Homo sapiens: one gene and its partners. The protein of the gene in region 4 interacts with the protein of the main gene of each other region in a biochemical or structural test. Each region holds a gene or a part of one and is shown on either strand. Other genes may lie near its edges. The genes, in order: MAPK1, MAPK3, MAPK8 and ELK1.

Region 1 (7,025 bases), on a different chromosome or scaffold from region 4:
ACCACCATGCCCGGCTAATTTTTGTATGTTTTTGTAGGGACAGGGTTTTGCCATGTTGGCCAGGCTGGTCTCAAACTCCTGGGCTCAACTGATCCACCCACCTCAGCCTCCCAAATTGCTAGGATTGCAGGCATGACCCACTGCGCCCAGCCAAGATCCCTTTACATTTGTTAAAAATTATCAAGGACCAGCTGGGCATGGTGGCTCACACTTATAATCCTAGCACTTTGGGAGGCCGAGGCGGGTGGATCAGTTGAGCCCAGGAGTTCGAGACCAGCCTGGCCAACATGGAGAAACCCTGTCTCTACTAAAAATACAAAAAATGCACTGGGCATGGTGGCACACACCTGTAATCCCAGCTACTTGGAGGCTGAGGCAGGAGAATCGCTTGAACCTGGGAGGTGGAGGTTGCAGTGAGCCGAGATCTTGCCACAGTACTCCAGCCTGGGTGACAGAGTGAGACTCTGTCTCAAAAAAAAAAAAAAAGTCAAGGACCCACACACCTTTTTTTAGTTACGTAGGTTATATCTATTGTTATTTACAATATGAAACTTTTTTTTTTTTAATTTTTGGAGAGAAGTCTGGCGCTTGTCCCCCAGGCTTGAGTGCAATGGCTCAATCTTGGCTCACTGCGACCTCTGCCTCCCGGGTTCAAATGATTCTCCGGCCTCGCCTCCCGTGTAGCTGAGACTACAAGTGTGTACCACCATGCCCGGCTAATTTTTGTATTTTTTAGTACAGATGGGGTTTCACCATGTTGGCCAGGCTGCTCTTGAACTTCTGACTTCAGGTGATCCACCCGCCTCGGCTTCCCAAAGTGCTGGGGTTACAGGCATGAGCCACCACACCCGGCCTACAATATGAAACTTTAAAATGTATTAATTAATTTTTAAATAGTAAACCCACTACATGTTAAGATAAATTACATGTTTTTCTTAAGAATAAGTTTATTTTCTACAATAAAAACGTTTTAGTGAGGCCAGGCATGATGGCTCTCACCTATAATCCCAACACTTTGGAAGGCCAATGCAGGAGGATCACCAGGAGTTTGGAACCAGCCCTGGTGACATAGTGAGACTCTGTACAAAAAAGAAATTTATTTATTTATTTATTTATTTTTTGAGACGGAGTCGTGCTCTGTCACCCAGGCTGGAGTGCAGTGGTGTGATCTCAGCTCACTGCAAGGTCCGCCTCCCAGGTTCACGCCATTCTCCTGCCTCAGCCTCCCGAGTAGCTGGGACTACAGGCGTCCGCCACCACGCCTGGCTAATTTTTTTGTATTTTTAGTAGAGACAGGGTTTTAACCATGTTAGCCAGGATGGGCTCAACCTCCTGACCTTGTGGTCCACCTGCCTCGGCCTTCCAAAGTGCTGGGATTACAGGTGTGAGCTGCTGTGCCCTGCCATCTGTACAAAAAATTTTAAAATCAGCTGGGCATGGTGGTGTGCACCTATAGTTCCAGCCACTCAAGAGGCTGAGATGGGAGATTTTCTTGAGCCCAGGAAATTGAGGCTGCGGTGTACCGTGATCACGCCACTGCACTCCAGCCTGGGCAACAGGGTGAGACCCTGTCTTTAAAAAAAGCAAAACGAAAAACAACCTTTTAGTGAGAAGAGTGGCATTGTTTTCATTTTTGCAAGTCTCTTTAATGTCTGGCTTAATAGAAGACAGTTGGATTCTCATCTGGTTCTGCATTCAGTCTGTCAAATATGTTGTTTTGGTTTAAGTTCATGAGGAAAACTCTTTTTTTTTTTTTTTTCAGGCTTTAATCAATTTAATAATCAATATAATATTACATGCATAGTTCTTCAAAAATGTCAAGGAAAACTCTTTCCCATGGATTTTAACTGCTTGAATTCAGAGCATAGAAAACAGAAGAAAACTTGAGTGCAATATTAATAAAGACCCTTTAAAAAAGATGTTATATAAAAAGAAAAATCGCAAGCCAGTGAAAAATACATGCAAAATTCTAAATAACATTTTAGCAAACAAAATCTATGCTTAAAAGCATAACACACAAAAAAGTGAGATTTTTCCCTAGTATGTAACAGTAATCAGACATTTTATCAAGACATTTACAAATAAGCCTAAAAATAGATGTCTGAGTGCTATTTATGAAATTCAAGATCTATTCCTCCCATCCAAGCACTAACCAGGCCAACCCTGCTTAGCTTCCGAGATCAGACAAGATCGGGCGTGTTCAGGGTGGTATGGCCAGAGGAAAACTCTTCACACAGGTATGTAGCTGGAAAAAGGAGGGAAATTTTAGTAGTCTTTTCAGCCACTTGTGGCTATTCTTTGATCCTACCCCCAGTTTAAACAAGTGGTGGTTTCTTAAAGGTTAATTGCAGTGTGGAATCTGAAATCATATCAGTGAATTCTTGATACTATTTCGTTAAAATCCATTAGTCTACCTTGCACTCATACTCATGCATGATTTTTTAGCGTATTTGGAAAATACTGGTTCACTGAGTTACACAGATATTCCAAGTGTCACATTTTCATGTACACATCATCACTCATCATATTGCATCTGGAAAAATCTTCTTTTCACTCGTGACTGAAAAGGATGAAAATGTCATAGTAGTATAATAAATGTACTGTGACCTCTCAGATCCTCTAGAGGGAACCCATAGGAGTCTCTGGAACACTCTTGTAGAACCGCCAGATAGAACTCCTAAATACCCTTTACCCCAGATTCAGGCTCACCGATTTTTTATCTTTTGCCCCATTTGCTTTATCATTCTTTGTGTGCATGTGTGTGGGCACTCCCACGCACTCTGAGTCATTTGAGAGTAAATTGTAGATACACCCCTTCACCTTGTTTCAGTATGTCTTTACTTCAAACCATGGTCCTGTTGTTCCCTGGGGACATGTGGCAGGGTTGTCACAGTGAGGGGTAGGGGTACTCCCTGCATCAAGAGGCCAGAGATGCTGCTAAAAATCCTACGATATACAGAACAGCCCTCCAAACAGAAACTTTCTCAGCCCAAAATGTTAGTCATACCGAGGTTGAAAAACCCTGCCTTAAGAGTATTCTCTAACATGACCACAGTACAGTTTTCAAAATCAAGAAACTTAATACTGATTCAGTATCTAATGCACAGTTTATATTCACATTTTAGATATTATCCCAATAACCTTTGAACTATACCCCACCCAAACCACCCCCCGACCTGGGCACAGGTTCACATGTTGTACTGTCATGAGTTTTGTTTGTTTGCTTGTTTGCTTGCTTGTTTTAAGACCAGGTTCGCAGGCCAGCCACAGTGGCTCACACCTGTAATCCCAGCACTCTGGGAGGCCAAGGTGGGTGAATCACATGGGGTCAGGAGTTCGAGATCAGCCTGGCCAACATGGCAAAACCCTGTCTCTGCTAAAAATACAAAAAATTTAGCTGGACATAGTGGCAGGCACCTGTGATCCCAGCTACTCAGGAGGCTGAGGCAGGAGAATCGCTTGAACCCAGGAGGTGGAGGTTGCATGAGCTGAGATCGTGCCATTGCACTCCAGCCTGGGTGACAAAGCAAGACTCCGTCTCAAAAAAAAAGGACGGGTTCTCATTCTGTCACCCAGGCTGGGGTACCGTGGCACCATCTCGGCTCACTGCAACCTCCGCCTCCTGGGCTCAAGGCCATCCTCCCACCTTAGCCTCCCAAGTATCTGAGACTACAGGCACGTGCTACTGCTCATGGCTGATTTACTTATTTATTTTTGTGCTTTTCATAGAGACAGGTTGTTGTGTTTCTTTAGTCTCCTTTAAGAGTGCAGATGAGCTATTTTGTAGAATGCCCCTCAGTTTTGGGTCATGCATTTTTAACATGAATACCAGAAAAGCACTTCATTGTATTAGAAGGCACTTCTGGAGCCAGGTATGGTGCCTCATGCCGTAATCCCAGCTCTTTGGGAGGCTGAGGCAGGAGGATCATTTGAGCCCAGGAGTTTGAAACCAGCCTGGGCAAATAGTGGGACCCCTTCTCTACAAAAAATTTAAAAATCAACCAGGTGTGGTGGTGTATGCCTGTGGCCCACCTACTGTGTGCCAGCTACTCAGTAGTGCCAGCTACTCAGGACCTGGCTGAGGTGAGAGGATCACCTGAGACAAGGAAGTTGAATTTGCAGTGAGGCATGATTACACCATTGCACTTCAGCCTGAGTGACAGAGTGATGACACCATCTCTTAATTTTAAAAGAGTCAGCTTATATTCCTTGGAGAAACATCTTTTTTGCACCATTGTTATGATTCAGACAGAATCCTTCCATGATTTTTTTTTTTTTTTTTTAATTTTTAGAGAAAGGGTCTCACTCTGTCACCCAGGCTGGAATGCATTGGCTCGGTCACAGCTCACTGCAGCCTCCAATCCCTGGGCTTAAGTGATCCTCCCACCTCAGCCTCCCGAGTAGCTGGGACTGCAGGTGTGAGCCACCATGTGTGGCAAAATAATAATAATAATGATAATAATAATAATAATTAGTTAATACCCAGTGTTGTTGAGGACATGAGGAAATGCATTTTCTTTCACATGCTGCTATTAGGAGTGTAACAGTGCAACTGCAGTCATAGTTCACTGCAGCCTCAAACTCCTGGCCTCAAGCAGTACTCCCACCTCAGCCTCCCAAAGTATCCTCCCATGACTTCTAACAGGATTCCTTTAAAAGAAAACATATTCCTGAAAAATGAATAGGAAAAGAAGATGAGAATTCTTTTATTTTATTTTATTTGTTATGTTATGTTATATGTTATGTTATGTTTTATGTTATGTTTATGTTATGTTATGTTATGTTATGTTATGTTATGTTATGTTATGTTATATGTTATGTTATGTTATTTTTGGAGATGGAGTCTCCCTGTGTTGCCCAGGCTGGAGTGCAGTGGTGCAATCTCGGCTCACTGCAACCTCTGCCTCCTAGGTTCAAGCAATTCTCCTGCCTCTGCCTCCCAAGTAGCTGGAACTATGGGTGCCCACCACCACGCCCGGCTAATTTTTGTAGTTTTAGTAGAGACAGGGTTTCACTATGTTGGCCAGGCTGATCTTGAACTTCTGACATCAGGTGATTCGCCCGTCTCGGCATCCCAAAGTGCTGGGATTACAGACGTGAGCCACCATGCCCAGCTGAGAATATTTTAGAAGAGATTGGTAAAATATGATGGAGCTAGCACACACTCCCCCAAACCCAGAAAAGGTTTTTAGACCTTTTTTCTTTTTCCAGCTCCAATTTATGACAATTCTAAATCTGTCTCTCAAATTGTTTCAAAAAAGGACGGATGTATACTTTGGAAATTCTAATTTAATAAGTTAATCAACTTTGTGGGTTTGTTGTTGTTTTGAGACAGAGTCTCGCTCTGTCACCCAGGCTGGAGTGCAGTGGCACGATCTTGGCTCACTGCAACCTCTGCCTCCTGGGTTCAAGCAATTCTCCTGCCTCAGCCTCCCACGTAGCTGGGATTACGGGCACCCACTACCATGCCCGGCTAATTTTTTTGTATTTTTAGTAGAGATGGGGTTTCACCATGTTGGCCAGGCTAGTCTCAAACTCCTGGCCTCAAGTGATCCGCCCGCCTCGGCCTCCCAAAGTGCTGGGATTACAGGCATTAGCCACTGTGCCCAGCCCAAGTTAATCAACTATGAAGAGAAAAATAAAATCACATAATCTTGGTTGTTCAGCCTCTCATAAGAAAGCCAAATTGTTTTTTGCTTTTCCATGTTGTTTACTTGTATTTCTGAATTGTAGAGTCAAAGGAGAAGTTCAGAGTCCCATCAGCAATGCACCTGTCATACAGGAAGATCTCATCATGTCCTGTAACACCAGATACCATTTTCAGTCTTTTCTCTCTTTCTCCTGCAGGGCTACACCAAGTCCATTGATATTTGGTCTGTAGGCTGCATTCTGGCAGAAATGCTTTCTAACAGGCCCATCTTTCCAGGGAAGCATTATCTTGACCAGCTGAACCACATTTTGGGTAAGGTTCCCGAGCCCTTCAGGAGCTAGATTTACTCAAGTTTGTACAGCTTACATCAAAGTCACTTCATTAAATTAAGAAGAGTTCTAATATACTCTTTAACCTGTGGTAGGTGTGAATTTTTAACCTTCTCTGATTTAAAATGTTAAGGACTTTTGTGTAAAAACATAAGAAAGGTAAACATCAGGAGTGGTGATAAGCAACGGCTCATATCAATTATCAGGGTTCATTCCGACTCAGAGTTGATGGTGTGTAGTCATTTACCTTGGTCCTGATAACTAATAGCTAATTTTTTTATCTGATAGGTATTCTTGGATCCCCATCACAAGAAGACCTGAATTGTATAATAAATTTAAAAGCTAGGAACTATTTGCTTTCTCTTCCACACAAAAATAAGGTGCCATGGAACAGGCTGTTCCCAAATGCTGACTCCAAAGGTAAATGTTATTTCGTTGATTAGTTTTTTCTTAGGCTTAGCTTCGCGTTTATTTGTTAAATTGTTAGGTCACTAGCCTGAAAAATGAGCCTATGGCTATTGGATAATGCTTTCTTTAGTGCTCACTCTGAATTGTTGTCTTCCCCCTTTTTTTTTTTGGAAACAGTGGCAGTGCAGTAAGGGAACCTGGTAATGACGGTCTAGTTCTCCACCTTTTGGTTTCTTTGCTAATTTTAATTTGCATTAAGGTCACTTTTTTTTTGTTTTTGTTTGAGACAGTGTCTCACTCTGTCGCCCAGGCTGGAGTGTAGTGGCCCGATCTCGGCTCACTGCAACCTCCTCCTCCCGGGTTCAAGCGATTCTTCTGCCTCAGCCTCCCAAGTAACTGGGACTACAGACGCGTACCACCACGCCTGGCTCATTTTTGTATTTTTAGTAGAGACAGGGTTTCACCATGCTGGCCAGGCTGGTCTCGAACTCCTGACCTTTTGATCTGCCCACCTTGGCCTCCCAAAACTGGGATTACAGGCGTGAGCCACAGCGTTCAGCCTAAGGTCACATTTTTAGGTCTCAGGAAGTCTAGGACCCTGCAAACAAATTACACCTTTTCATCTTGTCACTTGATAA
Region 2 (6,874 bases), on a different chromosome or scaffold from region 4:
ATTCTACAAAATAACTGACCTATAATCTTCAAAAGTCTACGGTCATGAAAGACCAGAATACTACTACTAATAATAAGAAGAATAAATAACTATTTCAGGCCAGGCATGGTGGCTCATGCCTGTAATCCCAGCACTTTGGGAGGCCAAGGTGGGCGGATCATTTGAGACCAGCCTGGGCAACACGGTGAAACCCCATCTCTACCAAAAATACTAAAATTAGCTGGGCATGGTGACACATGCTTGTGGTCCCAGCTACTCAGAAGGTTGAGGTGAGAGGATCATTTGAGCCTGAGAGGCAGAGGTTGCAGTGAGCCATGACCGCACCACTGCAGTCCAGCCTGGGCGACACAGCATGACACTGCCTCAAAAAAAAAAAAAAAGAAAGAAAGAAAGAAAAAAAGAAGTGCCAGACCTTGAAAATCACAAAAAGCTAATAACTGGTTTAAGATTTAATCTGGAGCCAGCCGAAGTGGCTCATGACTGTAATCCTAGCACTCCGAAAGGCCGAGGTGAGAGGATCACTTGAGCCTAGAAATTTGAGACCAGACTGGGCAACATTAGCTAGAACCCTTCTCTACAAACATTCTAAAAATTAGCCAAGCCAGGCACGGTGGCTCACACCTGTAATCCCAGCACTTTGGGAGGCCAAAGTGGGCAGATCACTTGAGGTCAGGAGTTTGAAACCTGCGTGGCCAACATGGTGAAACCCCATCTTTACTAAATATATAAAAATTAGCCAGGCGTGGTGACGTGTGCCGGTAATCCCAGCTACTTGTAAGGCTGAGGCAGGAGAATCGCTTGACCTGGGAAGTAGAGGTCAAGGTGAGCCGAGATTGTGCCATTGCATTCCAGCCTGGGCACAGAGGGAGACTCCATCTCAAAAAAAAAAAAAAAAATGCTGGGCGCAGTGGCTCACACCTGTAATCTCAGCACTTTGGGAGGCCGACACGGGCGGATCACGAGGTCGGGAGATAGAGACCATCCTGGCTAACACGGTGAAACCCCCTCTCTAATAAAAATACAAAAAATTAGCCAGGCATGGTGGCACACGCATGTAGTTCCACCTACTCAGGAGGCTGAGGCAGGAGACCCGGGAGGCAGAGGTTGCAGTGAACTGAGATTGCACCATTGCACTCCAGCCTGGGCAACAGAGCAAGACTCCGTTTCAAAAACAAAAAAAAAAAATTAGCTAGGCGTGGTTGTGTGTGCTAGGCATGGTGGCAGGATCTGTTGAGCCTAAGAGTTCGAGCCTGCAGTGACCTATGATCTTGCCACTACACTCCACTCCAGCCTGGGCAACAGAGCAAGACCCTGTGCTAGAAAAATAATTCTGCCGGGCACAGTGGCTCACGCCTGTACTCCTAGCACTTTGGGAGGCCGAGGCAGGTGGATCATGAGGTCAGGAGATGGAGACCATCCTGGCTAACACGGTGAAACCCCGTCTCTACTAAAAATACAAAAAATTAGCCAGGCATGGTGGCGGGTGTCTGCAGTCCCAGCTACTCAGGAGGCTGAGGCAGGAGAATGGCGTGAACCTGGGAGGCGGAGCTTGCAGTGAGCTGAGATCGCGCCACTGCACTCCAGCCTGGGTGACAGAGCGTAAGCTTCCACATCGTTTTCCCTCTGTCCCTTTTTTTGGGGGGGTGGGGGTGGGGGCAGGGTCTCTCACTCTGTCACCCAGGCTGGAGTGCAGTGGCACCATCAGAGCTCACTGCAACCTCAACATCCTGGGCTCAACTGATCCTCCTGCCTCAGCCTCCCAAGTAGCTGGGATTACGGACGCATGCCACCACACCCAGCTCATTTTTGTATTTTTGGTAGAGATGGGATCTCACTATGTTGCCCAGGCTGGTCTCCAGCTGCTGGGGTCAAGCAATCAGCCTGCCTCAGCCTCCCAAAGTGCTGGAATCACAGAGGTGAGCCACCACGACCAGCCAGCATCATTTTCCAGTTAAATGTTAATAGTATCTACTTCATATGGCTGCTGTGAGGATTACAGGAGGTAGTGTACATAAAAGTGCCTGGCAAGCCAGGTGCCGTAATCTCAGCACTCTGGGAGGCCAATGTGGGTGGATCACCTGAGGTCAAGAGTTTGAGACCAGCCTGGCCAACATGGTGAAACCTCGTCTCTACTAAAAATACAAAAATTAGCCGGGCGTGGTGGCTGGCGCCTGTAATCCTAGCTACTTGGGAGGCTGAGGTGGGAGAATGACTTGAACCCAGGAGGTAGGGGTTGCAGTGAGCTTGCACTCCTGCCTGGGTGATAGAGCAAGACTCCGTCTCAAAAAAACAAACAAACAAACAAACAAAAAAAAACCAAAAGTGCCTGGCACAGAAGAGATGGTAAGTCTACATTAGTTGAATATGCGTCTATGAACCAGAACAAATCCCAGTCCAGTCCTCCAAGGAAATGCCAACCTCAGTCACTAGAGGGGAATCTCAGTCACACTCTAACTGAGCTTCCAGCAGCAGGAGGTGGCAGCTTGCAGCTCTGATACACCAGCCTTTCCTATGCTGGGAAACTCACTCCCACTCAGCAAACCTGGCTCCATGCTGAACTCCATAGTGTTTTCTCTGAGTCACTATATTCTCCCGCAGTTGCAAAATGATCTGGCAAAAGTCCCTCTAGGGTTTTTACTGCTTACTGAGTAACATCCAAACTCCTTGCCAGAATCCAGAGCCTTCCTAATCTGGCCCCAACCTACCTCTCCAGGCTGAAACCTCATCATTTTTTTACTGCAGCCATGCTGGACAAGTTATGCTTCTGCCTTTATGCCTCAGCTCACCCCGATCCTTCTCCTTCATGCCTTTCTTCAGTCCCTACCTTCTGCAACCCTACTTTTTCTCTTCTTCTTTTTGTTTTTTGTTTTTGAGACGGAGTGTTGCTCTGTCGCCCAGGCTGGAGTGAAGTGGTGCAATCTCAGCTCACTGCAACCTCCTCCTCTCGGGTTCAAGCGATTCTCCTGCCTCAGTCTCCCAAGTAGCTTGGATTACAGGCACGTGCCACCATGCCCAGCTAATTTTTGTATTTTTAGTAGAGACGGGGTTTCACCATGTTGGTCAGGCTGGTCTCAAACTCAGGTGATCTGCCCACCTCGGCCTCCCAAAGTGCTGGGATTACAGGCGTGAGCCACCGTGCCCAGCCCCCCAATTTTTTTTTTTAATTAGCAGGGCGTGGTGGCGCGCACTCGTAGTCCCAGCTCTTTGGGAGGCTGAGGTGGGAGGATCACTTGACCCCAGGGAGGTTGAGGCTGCAGTGAGCAATTATTGCACCACTACACTCCAGCCTGGACGACAGAGAGAGACCCTGTCTCTATAATAAAATAAAAACAGTCTAGGACTCTGAGAGGCATGGAATTAGAAAGAGTCTCTGTGTCAGAAGACACCATTTTGAGTCTCAGCTGTCACTACTAGTGACCTTACCCAAGTTAGTAAACCTAACTCTCAGATTCTCCATCTGTAAAATTTGATCCATTTATTAGAACATTATTTTTAACCTAGGGTGATCCCGGGCCCAGGTTCTGGTGGGCTGCCGCATACATTGGCTGGGTGGCTCTGGTAGGTCACGCCCTGGCCGCTTCGCCATCGAGGGGAGGGTGAGGACAGTCTCCGAGGCGGCGCTGCCGAACCTCCCGGTGACCTGGAGGCCGCGGAGCCCGCAGGGACCCATGGCCCCCGAACCTGGGGCAAGAAGGGCGGGCGCGCGCGGGGCGGGTCACGTGACAGCTCCAGGCCCACGCGGGGCCGGGGCAAGGGCGGGGCCTGGCGCGCGCGGCCCTGCGGGTGACAGGCAGGCGGGAAGGGGCGGGGCCTCGGGCGGGGCCGCCGTGGGGAGGAGGGCGGTGGGAGGGGAGGAGTGGAGATGGCGGCGGCGGCGGCTCAGGGGGGCGGGGGCGGGGAGCCCCGTAGAACCGAGGGGGTCGGCCCGGGGGTCCCGGGGGAGGTGGAGATGGTGAAGGGGCAGCCGTTCGACGTGGGCCCGCGCTACACGCAGTTGCAGTACATCGGCGAGGGCGCGTACGGCATGGTCAGGTGAGGGGGCGTTCCGGGGGAGGGGGTGCCCTCAGGGGAGGGGGCTTCGCGGGAGAGGAGGAGGAGGCGCCGAGCGCTTTCCGGGACGTGGAGACGCGGAGCGTCCCGAGGAGGCAGGAGACTCGGGATGATCGGGAGCGTCCCAGGGAGGGGGCCCCTGAGTGCTTTCTGGGGGAGGGGGCGCTGCCTACGTCCTCAGGGGAGCAGGCTTGGAGGCTTTGAGTCCACCCTTCTGTAATGATGGGAGGGGCATCCGAGTGCATGTGGGGGCCCGCGGGGACCCTAGTGACACGGGGCGAGGCCCAGAGGATGAGTACTCTCGGGGAGGCGACATCCTTAGTGAAGAGGCAGTGGAGGGCCCGTTTTGGGGGAAAGGGTGTCTTGGATTCCCCCTGTGAGGCAGTGCCAGGGAGCCTGGGGGAGAAGAGCCGAGATCAGGGTGGGGCAGGGCTTTGGCCCCACCACCCCAGGGGCCCAGAGAGAGATGAGGCGGCCAGGAGTGCCACCTGCATGTTTTGGGAGGGGTCTGTGAGTGCCCCCGGCCCCACCGTGTGCTCTGGGCCTCTATCCCTCTGGGACAGCCCCGCTGCCCGGATCCCTCACCCTGGGACCCTCCCCTGCCCTGTCCATTCTCTCCTGCCCCTCCCCTGGCTGCCACCTTCCCAGTATTTGCCCCATGGTGTGTCCCCAGCATCTGCACCCCCGGACCTGTCTTGGGTTAAGGAGCCTTTCCTGGGAATGGGGGCGAAGGGTTCAGGGCCAGTAGAATGGAAGGGGATTGAGGAGAGGGGAAGTCAGTGAGCGGTCAGTCTCTTCCTCTGTTTGTAAAGTCACCGAAGGGCCGCCTGGCTGGTCCCCAGCTTTCTCTCTGGAGATCCCAGGCCTCCACAGCAGGAAGGAACCAGCATTGTTTATGATTTGACCAGAGCCAGCTCCTGCTCTCTCCCCTCCCTGCCAAGGCCTGGGTGGGGCCACCAGGCCCGGACTCCCCCTTTGTAAGGCCACAGCAGCAGCCTCTCTCCGGTCCCCTCAGCTCGGCCTATGACCACGTGCGCAAGACTCGCGTGGCCATCAAGAAGATCAGCCCCTTCGAACATCAGACCTACTGCCAGCGCACGCTCCGGGAGATCCAGATCCTGCTGCGCTTCCGCCATGAGAATGTCATCGGCATCCGAGACATTCTGCGGGCGTCCACCCTGGAAGCCATGAGAGATGTGTATCCTTCACCTTGGCCAGTCGGCTGGTCAGGCACGGCCTCGCAGCTGGGCTGGGGACCCGTTGCTTGGTTTCTGTTTCCATCTTACCCACCACCCTCCAAAACAAACCCAGTAAAATAAACTTTCCTGCAGAGGGGAAGCCACAGTGTAACAGGACTTGGAGACCTCTGATGAACCCAGGCCTGCAGCGGCCCAGGCAGTATGGCCTCGAGCAAGTGGGTTCTCTGCTCTGTGCCCCAGGGGGAAGGGCTAGGCAGGATGGTCTCTATGGGAGTGGTGTCTTCTGACGTCGGCAGTTCTGAGACATGACCTGGCCTCTGCCCACAGTCACTTCTTGCTAAGGAATGGATGATTCTTTCCTCTCTTTCCTCCTTGCCCAGACCGGAAGGGAGACAGGGAGAAAGAAAACTGTCAGCTGGGCGTGGTGGCTCACGCCTGTAATCCCAGCACTTTGGGAGGCTGAGGTGGGAGATTACCTGAGGTCAGTAGTTGGAGACCAGCCTGGCCAACATGGTTAAACCCCATCTCTACTAAAAATACAAAAAAATTAGCGGGGCATGGTGGTGCAAGCCTGTAATCCCAGCTACTTGGGAGGCAGAGGTAGGAGAATCGCTTGAACCCAGGAGCTGGAGGTTGCAGTGAGCCAAGATCGTGCCACTGCACTCCAGCCTGGGTGACAGAGCGAGACTCTGTCTCAAAACTAAACAAAAACAAAAAACTGCCTTTCTTGAGGGCCTGCTGTGTGTCAGGTACTATACATGCCCAATGCTTTTTTTTTTCTATTACACCTCCCAACTACCCTATGAGATGGGCTTTTCAGCTTCATTTCAAAGATGAGGGGTGGAGTGCAATGGCTCACATCTGTAGTCCCAACACTTTGGGAGGCTAAGACCAGAGGATCACTGGAGGCCAGGAGTTCAAGACCAGCCTGGGCAGCATAGTGAGACCCCACCTCTACAAAAAATTTAAAAATTATCCAGGTTTGGTGGTACACGACTATAGTCCCAGCTACTTGGGAGGCTGAGGCAGGAGGATGGCTTGAGCTTAGGAGTTCGAGGCTGCAGTGAGCTATGATTGTGCTACTGCACTCTAGCCTGGGGGACAGAGCGTGACCCTGTCAAAAAAAAAAAAAAAAAAAAAGATGAGGAAGCTAAGGCTCAGAAAACCTAAAATCAAGTGTTTCTGTTGCTGTCTCCTCCTCTCCTCCCCCAGATGGGAACTTGTCCTTCTTCTTAGGACTTCTCACTCAGAGCCACACCCTAATCACCTGTGGACTTGCACCTTGCCCAGGGAGGGACAGCCTAGCCTTGGCTGTCCTCCCCCAATACTGCTTTCCTAGTTTGCTGTCCACTTCCTGTCTGGCTCTCCTTAGCAACTTATGACACCTGTCACTTCTTCCCTGCCCCACCCACCCACTCTCAGTCCCAGCCCTCCACCCAAGAGTGGGGATTTGTACTGAGGTGTCTGCAACCCCCACCACAAACTGTGGACAGGAAATCTCCGTGCTCACCCCCAGCTCGCTGTGTGATCTGAAGCAAGTCACTGCGTCTCGCTGGGCCTCCCCAGCCCTAAAACAGCAGGGCTGGTCCACATATTCTCTGAAGACCCTTTCAAGGCTGATTCTT
Region 3 (7,025 bases), on a different chromosome or scaffold from region 4:
GTGGTGCACACCTGTAATCCCAGCTATTCTGGAGGTGAGGCATGAGAATCGCTTGAACCCGGGAGGTGGAGGTTACAGTGAGCCGAGATTGCACCACTGCATTCCAGCCTGGGCGACAAAGCAAGACTCTGTCTCAAAAAATAAAATAGAATAAAAAATGAACTGACATATGGTTCCTCTTTAGTTAAGAATTATGTAGATCACCTTCTTGCCTTCCCACTCCCACCCTAGGAAACGGAGTCAAATGTAATGCTTAATGATTATAACTACATTAGCCAGCAAGGTTAAACATAAGTACTTCCTCCTTTTAATGACACCTCACACTCATTTTATTTATCTTATTTATTTATTTATTTATTTATTTATTTATTTATTTATTTTTGAGATGGAGTCTCACTCTGTTGCCCAGGCTGGAGTACAGTCATGCCATCTTGGCTCACTGCAGCCTCCACCTCCTGGCTTCAAGCCATTCTCCTGCTTCAGCCTACGAGTAGCTGGGACTATAGGCATGTGCCACCATGCCTGGCTAATTTTTGTATTTTTAGTAGAGACAGGGTCTCATTATGTTGGCCAGGCTGGTCTTGAACTCCTGACCTTAGGTGATCCACCTGCCTCAGCCTCCCAAAGTGCTGGGATTACAGGAGTTTGAGCCACAACGCCTGGCCTCCCACCCATTTTAACAACTTTGCTTTATGTACCTTTTATTGCAGGCTACTCAGAGCATTTTGGAAAGCAGTGTAATCAATATATTTTTAACTGCTTAATAGACTAAGCAGTTAGTTTACAGCTAGAGTTGTGCATGAATCAGACTTATGTTCCTAGTCTTCACTGGCCCAGATAATATCTTCTCTCATGCTTGCAGCTTTCAAAATACTTTTGTTTAAAAATGAGCTTTTCTGAAAGTTACCAAATAAGTTGTAAGCTGGATATTTAAAGTTTAACATTCTCTATAAAATCTGTAGAGAAGATTTATTCTAATAGATTTTTGTCAAAAACGGAAACCTTAGAAAAAATTTTTCTCTGAGGCACTAATTTATAAATATTAAATTTTTTTTCTAAAATCTTATCCTTGAAAGCTGAACCATGACATAAATATGAAAATATTCATTCATTTTAATATGACATTTTAGGGAAACTTTAGTTCCACAGTATTTCCAAAAGTAATTTCCAGTTTAGCTCTTAAGACTCTTCAGTGAACTGGCAGCCTTTTAATAAGAATGTACTGTATTAGAAAGTACAGGCTTTAATTTTCTAAGTCCTTTAACATGAGTAAAGGGCACGTGTCTTTCTGACATCTATTTGTGCCGTTTTCCACTTGTCATTTTAAAGAATTGGGACCTTCAGATGTCACAACTAAATGCAAGTTTCTAAGGCTTTTCCTTCTAAATTGCTCATTCTTCCCTCTTTTCCTGTTACACTGCAAGCACTTACTCTCTCCTTTTTGTGTGATGTTCAAACCCAAAGGCATAAAATGCCACGATGTGTTGTCAGTTTCCCTTAGTAAGTGGAGATTCCAAATTGTCTGTTTCTGTGTCTAGCAGATTCTTGTCAACATTGATTGGGATTCCCATTTACAGTTGGCAAGGGTCATCAGTAAGTCTTCCAGGAGACTCTTCATACTCAATTCGTGGGAACTGACTTACTGTATCTAGCCAAAACTAACTTCTTAAGCCAAAAGCAGTTTGGTTTTATGGGTTTAAAAAACTTTAGGTAGGAAACATGAAATACATTTCTCTTACTAAGTTTTCCTTGATTAGTTGTTCATTCTCTGTGCACTTGTTCCTTTTGGGATAGTAGGGTAAATGTAGCATGATGTTGCCAAGAAAACAAATGGACTTTTAATTCAGAACAAGCATAGCACTTCTCAGTTAAATGTATTTGGGAAATCCAGTTTAAAAATTCCAAAGAGCTTTAGATTAACTTTTTTATCATAATTATTCATAGAGATTATTTCTGTTAGATATTTTAATATGCTGAATTATTTTCTCATGCTTTTTTCTTAGAGAGTATAATGCACAGTTGAACTTCTAAATAGTATAGTATAACAATTTTATTTTTATAATTTTACTACCTCATGTACATTTTTATTTACAAAGTTTGTGTTTGGTTCTATTTCATATTTTATAAACAAGTTCTCAGGGACAAACATGCAGGGTTTTTCTATTTATGCAATTTCTGTGCATAGCTCTCACTTTGAAATTAGATATGTAGTTAAAATGCCACACTTTACATTTTCTTTTGTGAACCAGACTTTCAAAAAATAATTTGTGTTTTAAATTATTCCGTTAGCTAAAGTTACAATCACTTTTTTTCTTTTCGTGACGTTTTGCAGTTTTTATATAATGCAGTCATATTATGCTTCTTTGATTTTAATGACCTTTTGCTTTGCTTTTCCTTCTTTTGTGCTGCAAACATATAGTGGATTTATGGTCTGTGGGGTGCATTATGGGAGAAATGGTTTGCCACAAAATCCTCTTTCCAGGAAGGGACTGTATCCTTGTGCTGCTGCAGCAGTTAATTAGTTAGGCGATGAACTTCTTTATGTTCTCTAATGAAAATGAATATGCTACATTTACACAGATGGGTTTTTAAACAGGCATAAAGTTTGTGGCTATTATAGTTCAAAAATTGTTGAGATAAGAAGCTGAAATATTTGTAGGCTGCATCTGGCAGTAGGACATACAGTCTCTGCTGGTAGTCAGAGCACATTCACTGTCACTCATTTTTATTTTATACTGCTTTTTATAATTTTAAAGTATACATGGTGTGTGTGATTTTATTTCTTTCTTTTTTTTTTTATTTTAACCAAAATCTTTATGTTAATGTCATTGCATTTTGTTTTCAGTTGACATTTGGTCAGTTGGGTGCATCATGGGAGAAATGATCAAAGGTGGTGTTTTGTTCCCAGGTACAGATCGTATCCTTATCTTTGGCCTAAAATGTAGTTTCTAAAGGTCAAAATGTATGATAGCACTTCAGTTTGGTCAGGTATAATGTATTTTGTCTCTCCCTAATATATTGTTAAATTACTCTTAAAATACCACCTACTATTTGACATAGACTTTTCCTTCCGTTATTTATTGTTTCATATGTTAATTCTGAACCCTGCTCAATTGTAATTATGCACAATTACTTGCTGGCTTTGAGTTGATTTAACCTAAATCAAAAATCATGGCTTGCATTAAAAATTTATAATAATTATACACTTAAGTCTAGAAATACGTACAACTTAATATGAATTTTGGAGCTGTCTGTTGCTTCTGGCCATCCTTTTGTTTTGTCCCCTACCTCCTTTTTGTTAATGTTCTGTGTGGTTTGTGTCTTTTGATTGTTGTCTCATTACTCACATAACATACTGACCCTTTCATCTGAGAATTTCAGCAGTAGTAGTTTTGTATGGTAACGATAGCTTTGGATTCATACTTTTTGTTCATCCCACTACTTTTAATATTTATATTAACAGTGATTTGTTATGTGTTTACCAGCTAGTAACACTTAGAATTGTTTCAGGAGGAAGAATGGGAAAAGGCATATTCACAAGGTTACAATAAGTGAGTTTTAGGCCTTGGCCTTCAGGGTCCTGGAGTGTAAAGACTAGAGGAAAGGAGACCAAGAAATCCTAACCTTACAACTTAGCAAAAAACTGAATCTTTTTTATAAGGGTCAGAGCTTTAGAAAATTTTTTTAAACCTAAGCTAAACAAAGAATGGCAAAAGAAAATGCCACTTTTATCGAAGCCTTTATTTTTATTACAACTGATTATTTTCTGTTAGTGTAGAAAACTCAGTAAAACAGGATGTGTTCTAGAAATATTGTCTAGGAGATATAATCATGTTTTCTGATAAATTGACAGAAAAGGAAAAATTTTGTATATTATTATAGCATTGTGTGCAGTTTGCAGTTAGAGCCACTATGGATAGTAATTGTCATTATTCTTAGTTGCTTATCATTTTATTTAGAATTTGTGAGTTTAAGCTTCCATTTTAAGGTAAAATCAGTTAGTTTGAACACACAATAAATAAGGTTAATAAAGCTTATTTATTGATCATTTCTGTCCACCTACAATCATTGCCTTTTGCAGGGTGCCTGTGAGATATAAAATTTATAACTGCCACATCCTTTCTTAGGAATTTTTAAATTTCTATTTTCTTGTAATATGAATATGACTAATGTATTGAACATTAGTTATGGAGTATTTTTCTTAGCTACTTGATATTAGATATTGATCAGTGGAATAAAGTTATTGAACAGCTTGGAACACCATGTCCTGAATTCATGAAGAAACTGCAACCAACAGTAAGGACTTACGTTGAAAACAGACCTAAATATGCTGGATATAGCTTTGAGAAACTCTTCCCTGATGTCCTTTTCCCAGCTGACTCAGAACACAACAAACTTAAAGGTACTTTTTACAAATATGTACATTTAATCCCATTTGGGGTGTGTAGTGTGTGTGTATGGGTTTGTGTGTTTATATGTATTCATATTCTTATGGGACATGAACCCAAGGTTTTCTCTGGATGGTGGGGAAAAAAATGAGGTTTTTGTTTTTTTTTTCTTTAATCTTATATATTTTAATCATATGTATAAGATAATTTTACAGTAATATTTTTAAAACATATGCTTTTTAAAAAATCTCAAATTGCTGAAAGTTATTAATAATTTGAGAATCTTTACAAATATATGTACATTAACACCATTATGTTTGCAGCCAGTCAGGCAAGGGATTTGTTATCCAAAATGCTGGTAATAGATGCATCTAAAAGGATCTCTGTAGATGAAGCTCTCCAACACCCGTACATCAATGTCTGGTATGATCCTTCTGAAGCAGAAGCTGTAAGTTATTTTCTTAATGTTTACAGAACATATTGCATTCTTAGAGTTAGAATGACAGTTAGGTTTGGAGGAGACCTTTTAATTTTAAATAAAAATGTAGATACATGATGATGATGTTTTTCTGTTTCTTCATGAAGACTACGTCAAATAAACTAATGAACATATTCGAGCCCCTCCTACACAAAATAAAGTTACCTCCCACTGTTTTTTGCAATCTTGCCTGGATACCTAACCAGAGAACTAGGATGTTGAATGCTCTGGGGGAACATCCTAACTCAGGTATAAAACAAATTACTGTATCCAAAGGAAAACAGAATTCTGTGATCTGTGATATAAATAAAATGTGGCAATTTCAAGAGCTAGAAGAAAAGAAAAAAGACAGTTAAACATTTTATTTCCTGCAATGAAGGAGTCTTCCTAAACTATTATGTCTGTATAAGTAAGTTGATGATTGATCAGTCTTGATCTAATGATATATTTTTATAAGTCATCTGTGTGGCTAATATTTCAAATAACTACAGAGTTAAAATACTCCCAGCATACTGACTTGGTTATTATTGCCTTGTGTTTTTCAGCCACCACCAAAGATCCCTGACAAGCAGTTAGATGAAAGGGAACACACAATAGAAGAGTGGAAAGGTACATTCGTCAGATTCTTAGAGGGAAAACTGTGAAGGAGCTTCTGGTTTTTATATGGTGATTTATTATCATGTTAGAGAAATTTGTGACTTTAATATGCATAACCGAAATGTGGTAATATTAATATTTTTACATAAGTAGAAAGTAAGTCTGCTTCCTTCCTTAACTTAATCTTAAGTTCCCAAGTTTCCCACCCCAGACACAGACACATTAGTGCTCTGTCTCATATTTTTTTCCATGGTTTGTGAATACACAAATGTGTTTAGTGTCTCCCACCTCTCCTCTTCCACCCTTTTAAAATCACGTATGGTTGTGTACGGTGTATGCTATATGTACTTGCTTTGTTTATTTATTATATATTTTTTTGAGTTGGAGTCTCGCTCTGTCACCCAGGCTGGAGTGCAGTGGTGTGATCTCGGCTCACTGCAAGCTCTGCCTCCCGGGTTCACGCCATTCTCCTGCCTCAGCCTCCTGAGTAGCTGGGACTACAGGCGCCTGCCATCACACCCGGCTAATTTTTTTGTATTTTTAGTAGAGACAGGGTTTCACCATGTTAGCCAGGATGGTCTCGATCTCCTGACCTCGTGATCCACCCGCCTCGGCCTCCCAAAGTGCTGGGATTATAGGCGTGAGTGCTTTGTTGATATAATCAGATATCTGGAAGGTTATTCTCTTTTAGTTCACGTATCTGCCTCTCTTGCTTTAATAACTGGTTAGTGTTCTGCTGTATGAATATGTCACACTTTATATATCCATCTCCCTCTTGGTGACCATTTAAATTGTGTCCAGTCTGTTGCTGTTAGAAACAACTCTGCAATATTCATGTTCACATATGAGAACATGCCTGGAAGAAAAATCCTGGAAGGAGATGTTCTGAGCCAAAGATATTTTTCAGTTATTTCCAAATTACTCTCCAAAGAAATGGTAGTAGTGTACACTTCCGTCCATGTTATATAGGAGTCTCTCTTTGCCCTCACCCTTGCCTACAGAATGGGTTAATTTTTAATATTTGTAAATCTAATGTAGTTTTATTCTATTTTATGAATGTGGCTGAAATTAATCATGCTTTGATAGTCATGGAAGTTTTCAAATATTTCTTCAAAAGGTGCCCTGGGACATGTGGGTCAGGTAATTTTTAGGTCCCGTTTACTTCCATTTGTGTTATTGTCCTTCAGTGTTTTGACCACTTTTGTAACTGCGTGACTTTGAGTAAATCACTCCCCCTTCATCTCACCCTCCTACACTGCCCCCTGCATTTTACCTCATCTTAAAATAGAGGCAGAAGACCTGTTATTAAGAGTTGTCTCTAAATCCTGGGAAAGGAAAGGGGACTGGGGAGGTATAAACATGAATAAGTGACCCATCTATAAATGTATTTTGCTAAGCATGAATTTGATTCTTTCTTAGAAATTGAAGAGATTTAGAGATTGGTTTTCTCTGAACTTTGGGAAACCCATGGTTAGCAGAGCCCGTGATAAAGTTAGAAGAATGACAAAATGATAAAATTGGATAGAGTCTGCTGCATTTGAATATGTAATGTGCATTTGAAT
Region 4 (7,430 bases):
GTTTGTATAAGAAGGCTTTCCTTGTTATGTCACAGGATTCCTGAGCCTATCAAATAGATTTTAATGTTTTGAGACTCCACGTACTTCCCCAAAATGAAGTATTTAAATTGTCAGTGCCTGCCCCCTTGCCTGGTCTTTTTGATGTACTGACCTGGTCTGTTAGTGTGATGAAAAATATGGTTGAGTCTTACTGCTTTATTGTAATTAGTAGGACTGTCTAGAAGTTTAATTTTTCTAAGAGATGAAGATTTGAGTCTATGTAGCTGGCTGTCCTTTAAAAATATTTGGTTACTTGGGATATACTTTGAACTAACTTTCTGGTCATTTTATGTGATCAAAAGTGTCAGTTCTTCCTGTTCTTAGTATATTTCTTTGTTTGGGAAGTGGAAGGGATGAAATCTCTATATTCTTTCCTGATGACACAGAAAGGAGTACACATCCACATCTCATGAATAGACATGTAATTATAGAAGAAACAGCCTAACGGCCGGGCGCGGTGGCTCACACCTGTAATCCCAGCACTTTGGGAGGCCGAGGTGGGTGGATCACGAGGTCAGGAGTTCAAGACCAGCCTGTCCAAGATAGTGAAACCCCGTCTCTACTAAAAATACAAAAAATTAGCCGGGAACGGTGGCAGGCGCCTGTAATCCCAGCTACTTAGGAGGCTGAGGCAGGAGAATCGCTTGAACTCGGAGGGTGGAGGTTGCAGTGAGCCGAGATCACGCCACTGCACTCCAGCCTGGGCGACACAGTGAGACTCCATCTCAAAAAAAAAAAAAAAAGCATAACCATATGACTATTCACACTGCCTTACATACTAAATCAGTAGTAATTTGCTTCTCACATAGCAAATAAAAATAAATCAGCAGTAATAAACATATCCCTTTTGTGTTACAGCTAGCATTTGGTGAACTCTGTATTTTTCTCCCTTTTAAAGTGTTGAACTCATAGGTTTTCATAAGGTAAGCTTACACCATTAACTAATTTTGTTCTCTTTTTTGATGTTAAAATTGTCCCTTAGGAGCTGATCAGGTTCATTCTTCTGTTCTTTAAGCATTACCCCCAGAATATTCTTGAAAGTATTCTTGCTCTCTGGCAACAACACCCATACTTCATTTATTTCCTGTCCCTAAACATACACTCAGCCAACCTCAGGTTCCTTTTAATGGAGTAGTCACTTATTCATTCAACATACGTTGGGTGCCTCCTCTGTGCCACACACTGTTCTGGTCCCTGGGGATAGAGCAGGAAACAAAAAAAAACAAAATCTGCCCTCATACAGCTGACATTCTAGTCAGGGGAGACAAACAATAAACAAATGAATGATGTAGTATGTCAGATGTTGACAGTGCTATGGAGAAAGCATATCATGGAGATCAGAAGCATTACCTGCAATGGAACAGTCATGATTTTAAGAAGAATGGCTGACTGGATGTGAAGTGTGAGAGAGAGGAGCCCAGGTTTTTGGCTGAGCAACTGGAGGGATGGAGTTGCCATTATCTGAGATGGAGAAGTTAGGGGAGGAGTAGATTTGGAGGGGAAGGTCAGGAATTTAGTCTGGAACCTGTTAAGTATGAGGCACTTATTAAACACTGAAGTGGATTTTTAGAAGATGTCATTAAAACTAGTCAAGTTCAGGAGAGAGTTCTGGGCTAGAAATAAAAATGTGGGAGATATTGGTATATACATGGGTTCATACTACTTTTTTTTCCAATTTAACATCCTATCTTATTGCTCTCTGCTTTTCCAACAGTATTTAGTTTCATTTACCCCTCAAACTGACTCCTACATTGACAGCACAATAAAATCCACATTCCTTATTATATTAAGACCCTGTGTGATCTAACCTCTTCCTATCTCTTGGACCTTGTCTTAGGCCACTTTCCCTCCCCACTCAATTTCTAACACTCTGACCTCACTGCTTCTCAAACAGCTCTTTGTTGCCTCTTGTCCTTTTTGTGGAAAAGGCCTTCCTACTGCTTAACCATTAGGCATTCTTCGATTCCTTCTCATTCTTCATTCTTGAGAAAGGCCTTCCTTGACCCTTTATATCAATTAGGATTCTTTTGGGCGAGATCTGATCCAAACTGGCTTAGAGAAAAGGAGTCAACTGACTGGTTCATGTAATTCAACCTCCTTCCTCTGCTGCAACCTTCCCTTGGCTCCCATCTCACTTAAGGTCAAAGCCAGGGTCCTTACCATGGCCTTGTAGGCTTCACACAGTTTGTCTCCCTCATTACCTCTCTGACCTCACCTCTTACATTCCCCCTTCACTTATTCTTCTCCAGCCAGAGTGGCCTCTTTGCTGCACCTCAAACATGCCAGGCACACTCCCACCTCAGTGCCTTTGTGTTTGCTGCCCCTTGTGTGTGGAACACATCCTCCATATAGCCACACTACTCAAAATTCACTGTCTTTAAGTCTTTACTCAAATGCTTCTCCGTGAAGCCATCCCTGAGCCCTCTTTAAAATTGCAGCCCCCCACTCCTGTACTCCTTATTGTCTCTCATTTTTAATTTTTGTTATTGTAGTTAGAACCATCTGACACATAGCTTTTATTCCATTGGTTTTTTGTTATGTCTTTCTTTACAAGAATTTGAAGTCCATCAGGCCGGGAGTTTTGTTTGTTGTGTTTGCTGCTATCTCCCAGTGCCTAAAATTGCCTGGCATACAGTAGGCATTTAATAATCTTTGAATCAGTGAAAACCAGATGGTGGCTTGGCATTTCCACATAGGAATGAGCCAGGTGGAAATCATCCAGGATATAAGTAGATCTTGAAGTGATAAGGAAGGGTCATCATAATCATGTGGGGCCCATTTTGCCCTTTCTTGTTTCTTTTCTCTAGGCTCAGCAACAGCCTCACCAAGGACTCCATGAATATCAAAGCCCATATCCACATGTTGCTAGAGGTGAGAGCAGCTCACCCCACTACCAGACTCTGTGTTTAGGGTGGTGACCTGAAGAAGGAAGAGAGCGAAAGAAGGGAAGGACCATCTTTCCCTCTAAACTGGAGTCAAGGGAGGGAGGTCAGAGCAAGCCTGGGGGCGTAACCCAGACCCAGTCTTTGTTCAATCTCTTCTGTCCTCTTTTTCAGGGGCTTAGAGAACTACAAGGCCTGCAGAATTTCCCAGAGAAGCCTCACCATTGACTTCTTCCCCCCATCCTCAGACATTAAAGAGCCTGAATGCCTTTGAGTCACATGGCCCTTCTTTTTCCCCATAAACCCTGCTAGTTGCCACGGGGGCCTGTTCCTAGGGCACAAAGTTACTGAGAGACCCAGAGATCCAGTCTCTCTGTGGAACCTCCAAAATGCCCCAGCAGTCCTGCCTCCAGCCTGTTGCCTGGCAGTATTTGCCAGTTGACCTTATGCACTGCCCTCTCTTCTGTCATCTTGGCAACCTGGGCCCCCCACCTCACCCTTTCTTCCATTCCTTTTCCTAGACGCCACCCTTTGAATTGCCATAGAGAATGGGCCAATTCATGGTGGAGGTTTGTTCATTCCCACAACAATCAAAGGGCCCTAAGGTTTACGCTTTCACACACCCAATCATTCCCCAGGTACCCCAAATTACACCCAAACCCTAACTCAGCCCTACCTTGTCTTAGCCCCTGCTTGTAAGTGTTCCAGCTTCCAATGGGCACAGACCTGGATCCCGCTCTCCCTAGTCGGGCCCCTATTCTAGGTTGAGTCCAGCCACCGCCAATCAATGCAGAGCCAGGTTCCTCCCCTTTTTAACTCTGGCCGCAGTTCAACCCTGCCCTCTGAAAGCATTTCGTTTCTGCCACTCAATGCTCTTTCGTGTGCCTGACAGCCATCCTGCCCTCCTACCTCCGCTGTGTTCTAAATTCGTCTTTACCCAGCTCTATGGTCTTGTCTAACCGTAGAGCTGCCCTGCCCGCCTACGCGGAGCCCAGTCCGACCCACTCCCGCCGGCTGCTACGCCCATTTCTATACAAGCCCTGCTTCCGCTGAGCAGCATGGCGTGCGACACCGCCCCCTTGGTGTTTTGGCAGGGGTCTAGAAGTCCCTCGTCCGCCAATCAGAGAAAAACAGGGCCACCCACCCCCGTCCTTGGGGGCTGTCTTCCATCAATCCCATGTAAGCCAATCAGTGTGAGGCAGACCCCCGCCCCCCCGACACAGGCCCCGAGCCTTTTCAGTTGCTCACAGTCCGTCAGTCCTTGAGCCAATCGGCGTGGAGCACCGTGAAGGCCGAACGCGCCTCCTCGGGACTCCAGGGGCCGTGAGCGTTCCATCATTTCCCCTTACGCCAATCACGGCACAGCTCTGTAGGGAAGGGCCCGTCCCCCAACCCCTCGAGGCCTTGCGGCCGATTAATAGCGCTTTGGCCAATCAGCGAGCGGCGGGACATTGGGCTCCTCCTCCTCGGGCCCACGTGAGCTGTAGGGAAACGCAGGGGCGGCTTCTAGGTGCTGCCGCCGCCACCGCCACCACCACCTCCACCGCCGCCTCGGAACCCAGGCCTGGGGGGCGGTGGGGCCGCGTATGGAGCCCCCGCCCCCCGGAGCTGCCAACATTGCCAACGCCACCGCCACGCTACACACAGGTGAGCTCTGGGCCTGGAGGGTGGAGGGCCCAGTCCGTGACCCCACGTATCCTTCCCGCCCCCGCGCAGAGGATGTGGCTTGGCCGGTGGCCTGCTGGTGTTCGACTCCCCGCCGCCACCACCACGGCTGGTGGACCTGCGTGTGGCATTGCTCAAGCCCTTCGTCCCTTATAGTGGATCTGACCGTGGCCTAACCTCCCCCTCCCGTTGTATAATGGATCGGTCTGCGTGCTTATGTTTTTCCCCACGCCAACTTAGGGTGGACTCGTCCATAGGCTTTCCCCCTACCCCTACCCCCACCCGCCCCCCACCCACCCCCACTTATAGGGAGCTAGCCTGTGACAGTGTTCAGCCCCCTTAATAGTAGGTGTATCTGAGTGTTTGGATTTCTCCTAGCCTCAACTTTCAGGAGACCCGTCCGTGGCCTTATTTATTCCACCCTTCCTGTACATCGTAGCGAATCAATCCGTGGCGCCGCACTCCTCCGCATCCCTCTTTAACAGTGAGTCTACCTGAGTTTGTATTCCTGCCTCCTCCAGTCCCCCAATGCATCAGTCCATGGCTTTTTTCAAAACCACCCCCCCCCCCCACCACCACCACCACCATTTTATAGTGGATCAGTCTTCATGTTTGGATTCACGTCCCTTTAGCTATCAGTCCATTGCCCTGTCTCCTCTTTTTCGTAGACTGTCGCTCTAGCGCTTGGGGTTCTCTCCTTTTTAATAGTGGGTTAGTTTAGTGCTTTACATCTCCCTATTTTCAGTAGCTCAGTCCATAGCCTTTTCCCTCTCTGCTTTGAATCAGTCTGTGTGATGGCTTTTCTCTCCTCTCACTGTGGTGCAGGAGTCTGTAAGGTTTTCTGCTCCCCTTCCCCTCAGACGATGAGCCTCATCACCCCTCCCTTTGCAGTGGATCTGTTCATTGGCCTTCCTCCCCCACACCCCTGTATGCTTGCACAGTCCCCCGCATACCCTCCCGTGAGTCCAGTGCTTTGTAATTGGGGGAAGATCGGCCGTGTACTTTCAATTTCCTTCTCTTTTTTTTTCCCTTCCCAGAAGAGAACGTGCTGATCCTCTTTTCCTTGTGATGGAGCACTGTACGGCCTTCCCTGTCCTCCACCTCTTAATAGTGGGTCAGCCTGGTCACACTCGTAACCACAAAGACGTTCTGCCTCACTACAATAAGTGAATACATTAGCGCCAGTGATGATAGTAATGCCAATAGGAGCTAGCGTTTATTGAGCACCTGCCGTATATCAGGCAGAGTGTTTCATATGAATGAGTTCCTTTAATCCTCACCACAACCCCATGAGATAGGTAGTGAGGGAATTGGGCCATAGGGAGGTTAAATTCCTTACTCAAAGGTGGCCCAGGAAGTACTCAGGACACAGGATAATTTTTGAGGCTCCCCTCTTAGATCTCATCCCACCCCACGTGAGGCCTCAGTCCTTAAAAACCAAATTAGTTCTCACCTCCAAGCTTTTGTTCTTGCTGTTCCCTCTGCCTGCAGAGCAGTCTTCATTCCTCACCTTCTCTCAGCACCCACCCACCCCCCAATCCCAGCAGCTGTGTGACCTTAGATGAGTGATTTAACCACTTCCTCTCTGTGCCTTTTTCTTCATTTGTGAAATGGGGGATCAGAACTAGAATCCCTTCCAGTGTAAATAAATATTAACTGTGAATTAATGGTAAAACAAGTAACCTTTCTAGCATTACCGCCTATACCTTCCCACCCCCTTACTGTGCTCCAACCACACTGGTTCCACCACACAGCTCCTCAAACATAGCAGGCATGGGCCAGCCTCAGGGCCTTTGCATTGGCTGTTCTTTGTGCCTTGAACACCACCCCCAGATCTCTGCATGGTTCCTTTCAGCACTCTGTTCAAATACCAACCCCCAAAGGATGTTTACCACACTGTGGTGTGTGGAATGCAGTATAAAAAGATACATGTATGAAAGATGTTTCTAAGAATGCCAGTTTATATATGAGTAAGGGTTTTCCTCCTTTTCAAAAGGATGTGTTCACAAGACTGAGGTACGTAATATGCTCTGTAAAGGCATAGGTATAAAAGCTGTTTCTAAGAGTGCTAGTTGTATATGTGAATAAGGACTGTGTTGTTGCATTGAAAGAATGTGTTCACAAAACTGTGGTGTGTAGCTGGGCACAGGGGTGTGCACTTATAGTCCCAGCTACTCGGGAGGCTGAGGTGGGAGGATAGCTTGAGCCCAGGAGTTCCAGGCCAGCCTGGGCAATATAGCGAGATCCCTTTTTCTGAAAAAAAAAAACCCAAAAAACAACCACTGTGGTGTGTGTAATACACTCTCTTAAAGGCACAGGCGTAAAAGATGTTTCTAAGAGTGATTTGATTTTGTTGTACCTGGGTAGTGTTATTTCATTAAAGGTTGATTGTCACACCATGGTACTTAGAATATACTATACAAAGGCACATGTATAAAAAAGAAGTTCCTAACAATGCTACTTGTAAAAACAAAAAAAGTCAACCCCTCCCTGACCATCTGAAGCTGCACACCCAGCAGGGCTCAAGCCAGGTCCCTGATTTGTCCCGTTGCCCTTTATCACTGTCTGACACACTGTGTGGGTTACTTGTTTGTTGTCTGTCTCTCCTCATTAGAATGTGAGTCCCATGAGGACTCAGTTTTTGTCTGCTCATTCACCGCTATGTCTCCAGCAACTGAAAATGTACCAGGTAAACAGCAGATGCTCAATAAGAATTTATCCCATGAATAAATGGGAAAAAGATAATTTGAGACACCAGTGTAGGGGTCACATGAGGAAGAAGAAGGGATATGAGAGCTAATTAGTTGGGACTGTTCCTGCAACCAACCTTTACTGAGCCCCTTG

Evidence for each region.
Region 1: of the proteins of ELK1 (region 4) and MAPK1, one has a biochemical effect on the other in vitro, tested with the Homo sapiens proteins (16 studies listed by BioGRID and IntAct, with this or other methods).
Region 2: of the proteins of ELK1 (region 4) and MAPK3, one has a biochemical effect on the other in vitro, tested with the Homo sapiens proteins (6 studies listed by BioGRID and IntAct, with this or other methods).
Region 3: of the proteins of ELK1 (region 4) and MAPK8, one has a biochemical effect on the other in vitro, tested with the Homo sapiens proteins (3 studies listed by BioGRID).

What each region holds. Positions count from the first base shown.
Region 1 is NC_000022.11:21,787,631-21,794,655, reverse strand, and holds part of MAPK1 (mitogen-activated protein kinase 1), read left to right. Parts: intron 1-5,847; coding exon 5,848-5,962; intron 5,963-6,267; coding exon 6,268-6,399; intron 6,400-7,025. UniProt on the Homo sapiens protein: Serine/threonine kinase which acts as an essential component of the MAP kinase signal transduction pathway. MAPK1/ERK2 and MAPK3/ERK1 are the 2 MAPKs which play an important role in the MAPK/ERK cascade.
Region 2 is NC_000016.10:30,120,198-30,127,071, reverse strand, and holds the start of MAPK3 (mitogen-activated protein kinase 3), read left to right. Parts: upstream 1-3,851; 5' UTR 3,852-3,862; coding exon 3,863-4,032; intron 4,033-5,065; coding exon 5,066-5,248; intron 5,249-6,874.
Region 3 is NC_000010.11:48,421,669-48,428,693, forward strand, and holds part of MAPK8 (mitogen-activated protein kinase 8), read left to right. Parts: intron 1-2,419; coding exon 2,420-2,491; intron 2,492-2,845; coding exon of another isoform or gene 2,846-2,917; intron 2,918-4,219; coding exon 4,220-4,402; intron 4,403-4,711; coding exon 4,712-4,836; intron 4,837-5,411; coding exon 5,412-5,475; intron 5,476-7,025. UniProt on the Homo sapiens protein: Serine/threonine-protein kinase involved in various processes such as cell proliferation, differentiation, migration, transformation and programmed cell death.
Region 4 is NC_000023.11:47,647,561-47,654,990, reverse strand, and holds the start of ELK1 (ETS domain-containing protein Elk-1), read left to right. Parts: upstream 1-4,427; 5' UTR 4,428-4,568; intron 4,569-4,964; 5' UTR 4,965-5,070; intron 5,071-7,430. Other genes in the region: protein UXT, read left to right, coding at 2,847-2,910, 3,096-3,149. UniProt on the Homo sapiens protein: Transcription factor that binds to purine-rich DNA sequences. Forms a ternary complex with SRF and the ETS and SRF motifs of the serum response element (SRE) on the promoter region of immediate early genes such as FOS and IER2.